Regions from separate parts of the Homo sapiens genome. Here region 1 is linked to region 2. Evidence: fine-mapped expression QTL. A gene starts in region 2. The other region holds a variant in brackets. All regions are shown on one strand. Distances are between the middles of the regions. Region 1 overlaps TMEM161B-DT (TMEM161B divergent transcript). Region 2 holds the start of TMEM161B-DT (TMEM161B divergent transcript).

The links.
Region 1: its variant is fine-mapped to the expression of TMEM161B-DT in whole blood (INTERVAL, PIP 0.98).

The regions. Positions count from the first base shown.
Region 1 is chr5:88,322,181-88,327,569 of GRCh38, reverse strand. All of the region lies in intron 2 of TMEM161B-DT (TMEM161B divergent transcript), which reads right to left. Among named protein-coding and RNA genes, the nearest start is that of TMEM161B-DT, 56 kb to the right of the region's middle. The variant A/G (reference allele first, on the strand shown) is at 2,717.
Region 2 is chr5:88,266,439-88,271,827 of GRCh38, reverse strand. TMEM161B-DT (TMEM161B divergent transcript) reads right to left here and starts at 2,946. Exons shown (of 3, transcript NR_039995.1): 1 at 2,801-2,946; 2 at 1,243-1,302. TMEM161B (transmembrane protein 161B) reads left to right here and starts at 2,983. Exons shown (of 12, transcript NM_153354.5): 1 at 2,983-3,107. The coding sequence starts at 3,105. RefSeq lists enhancers at 2,817-3,006, 2,697-3,196.

The DNA.
Region 1 (5,389 bases), 56 kb before region 2:
ATTTAAATATAAGATCTGAAACTATTAAGACTCCTAGAAGAAAACACAGGTGAAAAGCTCCATGACATTGGACTTAACAATGATTTCTTGGATATGCCACCTAAAGCACAGGCAACAAAAGCAAAAATAAATGAATGGGATTACATCAAACTAGAGAGTTTCTGCACAGCATAGGAAACAATCAACAAAATGAAAAAGGAACCTATGGAATGGGAGAAAATATTTGCAAGCCACATAGCCATAAAAAGAATTAATATCCAAAACATATGAGGAACTCACACAACTTAATAGCAGAAAAAACAAAGAACCTGAGTTAAAAATGGGCAGAGTGTCTCATGCCCATAATGCAAACATTTTAGGAGGCTGAGGAGGGAGGATTGCTTGAGGCTGAGAGTTCAAAACCAGCCTGGGCAACATAGTGTGATCCTGTATCTACCAAAAGTTAAAAAAATTATCTGGGCATGGTGCTATGTGCCTGTAGTCTTAGCTACTCAGGAGGCTGAGGCAGGCAGATTGCTTGAGCCCAGGCATTTGAAGCTGCAGTGACACACCACAACACTAAAGCCTGGCTGACAGACAAGACCCTCTCAAAAAAAAACAAACAAGCTAAAAATTAAAAATAAAATTAAAGTGGGCAAAAGATCTGAATGTACATTTTTCCAAAGAAGACATAAAAATGACCAAGAGGTATATGAAAAGGTGCTCAATATCTTAAATTATCAGGCAAATGCAAATCAAAACCACAATGAGATACCACCTCGCACCTGTTATGATGACTATTAGCAAAAAATTGAAAGATAACAAGTGTTGGTTAGGGTGTAGAGAAAAGAAAAGTCTCATACACAGTTAGTGGAAATGTAATTAGTACAGCTATTATGGAAAACAGTATGGAGGTTTTTCAAAAAATTAAAAATAGAACTATTGTATGATCCAGCAATCTCACTACTGAATATATATATCCAAAGAAAAATAAAATTGATATGTTGAAGATATAGCTGCACTACCACATTCACTGCAGAACTATTCACAATAGCAAGGATATGGAATCAATCTAAGTGTCCATCAACTGATCAATTAATAAAGAAAATGTGATCCACACACACACACAAAACACACACACACACACAATGGATATTATTTACCCTTTAAAAAAAGGAAATTCTGACATTTATGACAGCATTGAGGAACCTGGAAGACATTATAGTAAGCCACACACGGAAAGACAAGCACTGCATAATCTCACTTATATGTGAAATCTAAAAAAGTCACATTCATGGAAACAGAGAGTAGAAGGTTGGTTACCAGTGGTTAGGGGAAAGGAGAAATGGGAAGATGTTGGTTAAAGAGTATAAACTTGCAGCTATAAGATTAGCAAGTTCTGGAGCCCTAATGTATGGCACGGTGACTATAATTAATAATAATGCATTGTATACTTAAAATTTGCTAAGAGAGAAGATCTCAAATATTTGCATCGTACACACAAAGAGATAACTGTGACGCAATAGATATGTTTATTAGGTTGATATGGTAACCATTTTACAATATATACATATATCACAACATCATATTATACACCCTTAATATATGCAATTTCTACTTGCCAACTATACCTCAGTAAAGCTGGGAAAAATTTATTTATTGAACCAAAAAAATCCGTGCATTAAAAAAAGACTAAACAGTTACATTATTATGCAAGGTTGATGTGAAGGTAAAAGTATTGTAGGTAACAAGTGAGCCTAAAGAATTACCTAGCATTACCATTTCATGATGTTTTTGTAGTTTTTGACTAATAGTATGTGTAGTTGCTCTGATAAAATTATAATATTCTATATTAGAGTAGCGGAGAATAATTATATACTTTGGTGGTATTGAGTAATTTGGAAATTTGCAAAGATCTAAGGATGCATCTTTGAAAAGGCCAGCCTGGTTTATCATTGACAAGGGTATATAGAGTACCGGGAGAAGTCATCTTTTTAGCCCTCATTACTTGAGTTGGGCAGTGCCCTAAAGTTATGCAGAGAAATTAGCTGGGTGTGATGGCACATGCCTATAGTCCCAGCTACTCGGGAGTCTGAGGCGGGAGAATTGCTTGAGCCCATGAGTTCCAGGTTGCAGTGAGCTATGATCATGTCTCTGCACTCCAGCCTTGGTGACAGATTGAGGCCTGGTCTCCTTAAAAAAAACACAAACAAACAAAAATGCAGAGAAGCCAAAGCTGTGGGGCCATACTGAAACTTGTTGGGTGCCCTTGTCTCTATGAGAAGCACCCAGTGAGATGTTTCTCACTGGTCTTAACAAGATATTGCATATATTCATTTCTTTTTTATTGTTATTTTTTGATTTAAATACTTACTATTAAAATAAAAATGTTTGAAAACTACTGACCAGGTTTCCCACAACCTCAGCTTTCCTCTACGTAAGATTTTACTTGCATCTAAAAAATCTCTGACATACCTGTTAGGATCCCATTTGTGAGGTCCTTTATCGATTACATGATTATTAGTCCATGTCTGAGTTAGACGCTGTCTTTCAAAGCCTTCATTTCAAATTCATTTAGTTACCAGTTTTTCACACTAGATAAATTATTTGGAGTCTTTCATTAGAATTTATTTTCCTAAGCATAAGCCCCTCTTTTCCCTATAATTTTCATTTGTTCTTCACTGCTTACCAAATTATGGGCAATCTCTGTATCCTGGCATTTTAAATCTTCGATCAC[A/G]TGGCACCAGAACTGTCTACCACTGCATGCCTACATGTGCCTTAGAGTGCAGTAGAGCTGAGGGCCAGGACAATATCTCACACATGCTGTGTTAAGTCTTACAGAAACAATATCAAACAACTAAATCTGCCATTGTCGCTGTTATGCTTCCCATTGTCAGCCCCAAGTCACTAATTTTTTTTTTCTTTTTTGAGACAGAGTCTCACTCTATCGCCAGGTTGGAGTGCAGTGGTGCAATCTCAGCTCACTGCAGCCTCCACCTCCCGGGTTCAAGCGTTTCTCCTGCCTCAGCCTCCCAAGTAGGGATTACAAGCACGCACCACCATGACCAGCTAATTTTTGTATTTTTAGTAGAGACAGGGTTTCACCATGTTGGCCAGGATGGTCTCAATCTCCTGACCTCGTGATCCACCCGCCTCGGACTCCCAAAGTGCTGGGATTACAGGCGTGAACCACCACACCCGGCCACTAATTTTTTTTTAAAACTCTGATTGAAGGAGAAAAATGTTTTGTTCTGTTTTGTTTTGTTTTCTCTCCCTCTCTGAAAAAAAATGCTTACATTTTATGGCAAGTTGTCTCAGTTTGTTTTGTGCTGCTATGACAGAGTCCCACACCTCCCATAACACCTCCCATTAGGTCCCATCTCCCAACACTGTTGCATCAGGTACTAAGTTTCCACCACATGCTTTTTGGGGTATATATTAAAATCCTAGTAGAACTGAACATTTATATTTTTTAGTTTTGTATTTCTTCTGTTTTTCAAGAAATAGCCTATTTCTTTCCATTTAGAATATATTTTTCAAATCTTCACAACACATAAGCAATATATTTAATATTAAATCTGTAACATGACAATAAGGTTAATAAATGTTAATAAAACCACCAGTTTGTTTACTTTCTGAAAGTATATAAGAAAATAAAAATGATTGATTACTTTATTTGGTAAATTTAGTACTTCTAAAAGATGTCAAATGAAAGACTGAAATCCCTCATTTATTGCCAGACAAATATAACAATGAAACACAGCTTTATCACAGTTATTTATGTAATTAAGCATTCTGTTTTATTTTAGGAATTCTTCGGAGGAGGTACTCTTCACATTTAAAACAAAAATTTTGTTTATTATCTTAAATCAAAGGTTTGAAAACCACATGGTACATTTTTTTTTTTTTTTGAGACGGAGTCCCGCTCTTTAGCCCAGGCCGGATTGCAGCGGCACAATCTCGGCTCACTGCAAGCTCCGCCTCCCAGGTTCACGCCATTCTCCTGCCTCAGCCTCCCGAGTAGCTGGGACTACAGGCGCCCGCCACCGCGCCCGGCTAATTTTTTGTATTTTTAGTAGAGACGGGGTTTCACCGTGTTAGCCAAGATGGTCTCGATCTCCTGACCTCGTGATCCGCCCGCCTCGGCCTCCCAAAGTGCTGGGATTACAGGCGTGAGCCACCGTGCCCAGCCGGTACATTTTTAATTTAATATTAACTAAAAATATGCAAGCAACTAATCTTAGTTGTTTTCTGTTTACTTCTATTCCTGGAAGATTTCTAACATAGTCTCATGCCCAATTTTCTAGAGATAGCTTGCAGCTTATCAGCTTGCTTCCATTTAGTAATAATTGGGGTATTTGGATGCACTAAATAAAATATGATATATCGCAGATTTTGGCAATGCATATAAGTTACCTTAAATACTTTCTGCTGATTGCCCAGTGACTATATTTATGCATATTATATTTATATATCTTATATATAAAAACACATACATGAATTCCTGAAAATGCGTTATAGACTGAGTGATGTTTGTCTTCAATTATAGTACGTGTTTTTCTTTTTCCTTGAATGGCTCTTTCCAGTTTATTCTGTGACTCAGCTACACTAACCACAGTTCAACTTAAACACTGAAATTGCTTTTACATTGCTTATCCAGGTTGGGGGAGAGGATGGAACAGGAGGGTGCAGAGGTTTGGGGACCATGGAGAATGATGAGAAAGCTCAGTGGCTGGGTCCGACAGTTTCTTTAGAAAATGTAATTCAATCTACTTCTCCTTGGCTTTGTATTTGCAACTATTTGAAGTTATGTAAATATTTTCATCTGTTTAACATCTTAGCTTTTCTTTCCCATGCTCATGTCCTCATAACGAATACATTGTTATCAAAAGAAATTTATATTAAAAAAGAATGAATTTCCTGCTACTAATTCCTCTGGAGTATATACCTAGAGTTACCCAAGTGGGAAGCAGTCAATTCAAATTAACTGCCACTTGGAGTCCCTGACCCTCAGAAACCACTGCTTGTTTATTCCCTTCCATTGTGTCTTGTTGCTTATGGCACGCCTCTTCTAAGAGTAGTCATACATGTTGTGCTTTAGTTTCAGCTGCCCTGAGGGATTATTTGCATTTTGGAATCTTTAGTTTCAGTCAGACCATAATAAACATAACGTCAAATTTTGTTAAAATTAGTCCTGAACTTTTCACATGATGTGATAATAAAAAATAGAATACACTCTACACAATATGCATTCTACAATGGAGTTAAAGGCACATATAGGCTGGGTGCAGTGGTAATGCCTATAATCCCAGAGCTTTGGGAGGCTGAGGTGGGTTGATCGTTTGAGCTCAGGAGTTCAAGACCAGCCTGGGCAACACGGTGAAACTCCATCTCTACCAAAAATACAAAA
Region 2 (5,389 bases):
GAAGTAACTGTTTACAACATTCACTTAAATGATATTTGTTATGGGGAAGGCGAGAAAACAAAACAAGGTCCCAGCTGTGGAGGAATTTATAGTCTAATTAGGAAAACAGTATATGTTAGGGGAAAAAAAACTACAATGAAAGCATACGACACTTAACCTTGTTCAGAAACAGTAATTTCTTAGCAGAAAAACTAAGCAGAACATTTTGCAAAAAATATGGACTGAACTGCGAAAAAGTGATATATCTTAATGGTTTAAAGAGTTCCAGGTCAGTGTGGGTATCGTACTTTTTGTTGGTCTTGAAAGCATTTGAGAACAGTTCTCATTCAGGACATTTCAACTCATCACAAAGCCCGAATGGTAAGCAACCAAGACTTTTCTCAAAGATTATGCTCCTAATTCCCTTGCTGAAACTACTGAATTTCTTTTCATCTCCATCTATCTTTTCTTCCCTTTCATAACTGTCCCCTTTCTTTGTATCTTTGTCAAAGACACTCACCTATTTTAAATAATGGAAACAGAGAAATTACTGTACTTCAAGGCAGGCAACCAATAGATAATAATATTATTCTACCAAAAAAAAAAGACTGGGTGGCACTACCTTAAAACATATATCCATTTTAATCATTAAATAGCATTACTTATATAACAGATTTTTCACATGTAATTGAGAGAACTGTGTGAAACAGAACATTAAAAGATATTAATCAAGAGTTATTCATCAACTTGCCATACAACAAATAAGGAACACTGCACTCTGTGATCTATTAAAAATGATAAGCAGATAATCAAAACTGCGATTTCTTTTCATGGTTTTACTCTAGCAGGAATGGATTCCATTCTGATAGTAATTCCAGTTTTACTGTCACATAGAAGGAGATACTTTGCGAACCTCAATGACTGCCAGGTTTAGGACAGATATTAAGAACCACAGTGTCAGAAATGAAAGAGTACAACTTCACAGAATGTGTTGTCTCTGACAGGTTGATAGCCACTTACCTTCTCCATCTTTTCTTCCTCAAGGATAGCAGCTGCTTCCCACAGATACACCAACAGGCAATTCCAGCCCCTCTCTACCACACTTACCATTTGCAGGTGCCTGTGGCTTGTCTATTTACAACCTTGTCCCTACACAGCAGAAGCGGAACCCTTCAGGAAGTTCTGGATTCATCCTCAGCAGGATCTGTTTCACAAACTATTCTCCAGTCCCACCTTCCCTCCAGGTATTCTGTCAGTACTTACGATTCCCAGATCTTCTTTTAATTGTCACGCTGTTCGTCCCCTCACAAAATCAAGTTTAAACTAAAAAAAAAAAACAAAAAAAAAAACCCTCATACACTCAGTCTGTGTCCCCTTTCCTGACATAAAATAACTGGCCCTGTGCATGCTTCTTTTGGATGGCTGAGAACCCCGATTCCTTTGGGCCATTTACAGCTTGGATACCATACGCTCCAGGTACTTTGATAAGCAGGGTGAAATTTAATATCTATAACAACGCCTGCCTACTCAACCTTCTTAACTTCTCCCAAAACTTCCTAGTTTCCCTTCCCAATTCCAACTTCATAACAAAACATCACACTATGGCACAAAGTGAATTCATGGATGAAATTACTAACAGCTACAACTTAAGTAAGGACCCCAAGTCGTGAGACAAATTTCTGGGTTGAAAGTGCTCTGTATATCCATTTCAAGCCTGCCTCCAGTACGATGTCTCATTATAATCAAATAAAAAGGCAGAAAAAGTTGAATGGAATAGAGTTTGGAAAAAACACAAAATTAAAAGTTGTATGAGAGTTTCACTTATTTGCATCTGATATAAATATCTATACATCTATAGAAAAAAAAAACCCTCATACACTCAGTCTGTGTCCCTTTTCCTGACATAAAGCAACTGGCCCTGTGCAAGCTTCTTTGGGATGGCTGAGAACCCCGATATATCGATATATTTATAGATAGACGTCTACATATCTATCCAAATATCTATATCTATCCATATATCTACCTATCTATCTATCTATATATATATCTATATCTATCGATCGATATCTATCTATATCTATCTATCTAGACTTCCCTGGTGAGGGAGTGAACCGCTGCCTGACGGGGGCCAAGACTGGCAGAGCAGAGACGCGGTTTGTACATGAGGGGAGGTGGTGGCCAGAGCAAAAGTGAACCGCAGGCTAGGCAAAGACCACAGCACACAGCCATACAGGTGTCCAGGACCGTCAGATCCCAGAGCATCTATCTATATAGATAGGTATCTATATGGAAAACGTCCATATTGGAACGTATTAAAGAGGCAGAATTTTCTTCCTGGGTTCTCTGCTCTTGGTAGATGTTCTTCCGGCTTCAATTGCCACCTGTGAATAGTGAAGAAACTTCTCACTATGAGATTCCATTGCCCGGAAGGAGGGTAGAGCTACGGTACCCACTAAGGCAGGGAACAGAAGCAACAGACGGACAGGTCTGTGGAAATGAGGATATGCTAATAAGGGACCGAGTCAGGAAAACTAGAGGGTAACAAGAGGGCGTCAGTTAAGCTGAGACAAAATGACGGCCAAAGGTGGTCTTTACTCTCTCTAAATCACCTGGGTCTGGAGTCGACTCCCATCGCGCACCCTCACTCCCACCCCTGGCCCCCTCCCGCCCCCCACCCGCCCCCCTCCCTCTCCCCTCCCGCTCCCCACACCAACGTGTGCCTCCGTCACCTCTCAGACAGTGGATGCGTTCCTGTTGAAACCACCCAATCTACCTCAGGGTCCTCGCAAGCGCAGCCACCACGATCCGCCCGCCCACGTACCTGTGCTGCGCCTGCGCCTCCTCCGCTCTCTCAAGGTCAGCACCGCCCCCAGCCCACAACCTGGCACCCACGGAAGTTGCTTTAGAGGACGTCCTGCGTATCTTCACCTCTGCGTGGCGTGGGGTCGACGGCGCTCTGGAGAAGGGAGGAACTTCCTGTCCCGCGCGCGCACAACTTCCGGCAGAGCCGGAAGACCCTCTCTTTCGCTGTTTGAGAGTCTCTCGGCTCAAGGACCGGGAGGTAAGAGGTTTGGGACTGCCCCGGCAACTCCAGGGTGTCTGGTCCACGACCTATCCTAGGCGCCATGGTGAGTTCTTCTGTGAGGGCAGGAGTGACAACGGTGGGGCGAAAAGGGCGGGGAGGTCAGTACTGTGAAAAGAGCCATCAGGTGCTCTGCTCAGAATGGAGTTGAGACGTTGGGATGAGCTGCTGGGTAGGACCCACCACCTATCTCAGGGTGTCTGAGCCCCTGAGGAAGCAGCATTACGCCTACCTGTCTGGGAGACTAGCGGGCCGGAGGCAGGGGCGTATCTGTCAGGGAGTATGGACTGGGTAGCCTGCCTGTTCATGGCCCATTTACTGTGTATGGCCTGTGGCGCCAGGTGATCCCAGAGTTGACCTTGCCGGGTCAGTCACCTCTTCTGCGCCCCCTTCTCCATCCGCGGAACAGTGGCCAAGAACTTCAGATCTTAGAAATGCTTTTAGCCTCTCCAGGTGGACACAACGGGTCTCCTTGTATAAGATCAACACCTGTCATTTAAAGAAACGGTAGTCCCCTTATTCTTTACACTTAGCCATTTCATAATTGAAAAGGGTGTCAAATAAAAAACCCGAGTTTAGTAAGGACAGACTTTATTCGAAAGGAATATTGCAGGGGTGTGGAGGAAGGTTGAAGGAACTGTTGCAGTAGGGAGAATGACCGTAAGATTTGCATGCACCTTAAAGGTTAGGCAGAAAGGGTTTGTCTTTTGTTGGTAGGGGTAAATAAGATGTCAGGAATTGGGATGAAAATATGGGTATGATCCGGCAGTAACCAGATAATGTTTTACCCTGAGCCCATGTATTCTGAGGAGGAGCTGTTAGGAGAGGTTTGTATATGTTGTTTCAGACTGAGGGAAGGACAAAATTCAGGTACCCGAGAGAAGAGAATCTTAAAGTTTGGTTAATAAGTATTTTGTTCCGATTGATCTGTGGGACAGGTACTTCAGCAAGTCATTTACGAAGCAAAGGATGGGAATTAGAAGGGTCTAGTTATGGCCTTGTTATAGGTAAACAAGGGGTAGGGGGGTATGGATCAACCCTTAGTCTTATCTAAGTTCTACAGGAAAGATGATTCTTTGCAGTAAGCCAATTTCTCAGAACACAAACGGGGGCAAGGGGTTTCTTAACCTTTGCTGTTTTTCAAGATCACGGGGCTCTGGTGAAGTTCATTATTGTCAGTTTCTTCACCGTATACAAGATTTCAAACCCTCACTTGCAGAGGCTTCTGTCCTGGAATTTAGCTTCAGTTTGTCTTATATTTTCAGGGCCAAATATTGCCAACATTCAGTTAATGTGTGTGGTGATTGGCTTTTGAATGACTTTTAGAAACTTAGCTGAATGTAGAACAAAGACCTTCAAAATAATGTAGTTCCTGGTGCACTTTACCAGATAACCTATCTCTTTAAAGTTTTTTTTTTTAAGCCTCAGTGAATAATATGGTTTGTATTAAGAAAGTTGTTTTTCTTTTGTATCAGTGAAATTAGACAAGGATAGGGAAAACAGAACTGGGAGAAACCAAAGCCTAGTAATCACTCTTCCATCCCCATTTTTACAGAAGAAAGAATCTGGGGTCTAGAAATTGACAGTGATTTTTCTAAAGTAACAGTAGTTTGGCAGTCTGGACTAAAACTCATATTTTCATTTTTTAAATTTAAGATTAATTTTTGACTTTTTGGTCTGAAAAGTTGAAGGTAAAGTATAATTAAAATACTTAAGTTCATCATAGTCACAGAAAAGCTGAACATGAACTTGTTCTCAGTGTTTTGGAATACTAGAAGTAGAATCCTGCTTATCCTGTCGGTTCAAAAGAGATGGTTAATGTTTGGAACTAATGTAATCTTATGCTGTTTTTCTGAATGTCATTTTGGAACTAACTAGTTGGCTCTTTTCCTTCTGGAAGTGCTTATATTTCTGAGCTAATTATCTTGGCTGAGTTTTATCTTTCCCAGCTATGAAATTGATAATGTCTGTATATGCAAGTGTGGTTAATGCTTGGAATTTTTCAAAGGGAAGAGTTTAACCATTAAATGAAGTGAACATGGGCTGAATTTATTGAGGATTCAGCTTGTTGAAATCAGAACTTGTTTTGCATTGCTGGGGCCTAATGATATTATGAAAAGAACATTAGTATTGACCCCAGAGGACCCAGATTCTGCCCATTGTTAGTTATATGGATTTGGAAAAGTCACTCAATTTTGATAAGAGTTCCAAATTCCTCCTGGGTAAGAGAAGTGGGACTTGATGGGTATTAAAGCACCTTCTTAAATTTATGATTCCATGACTACTCAACATTTTTGAGGATAGTTACATGTTTCAGATTAAATAAAA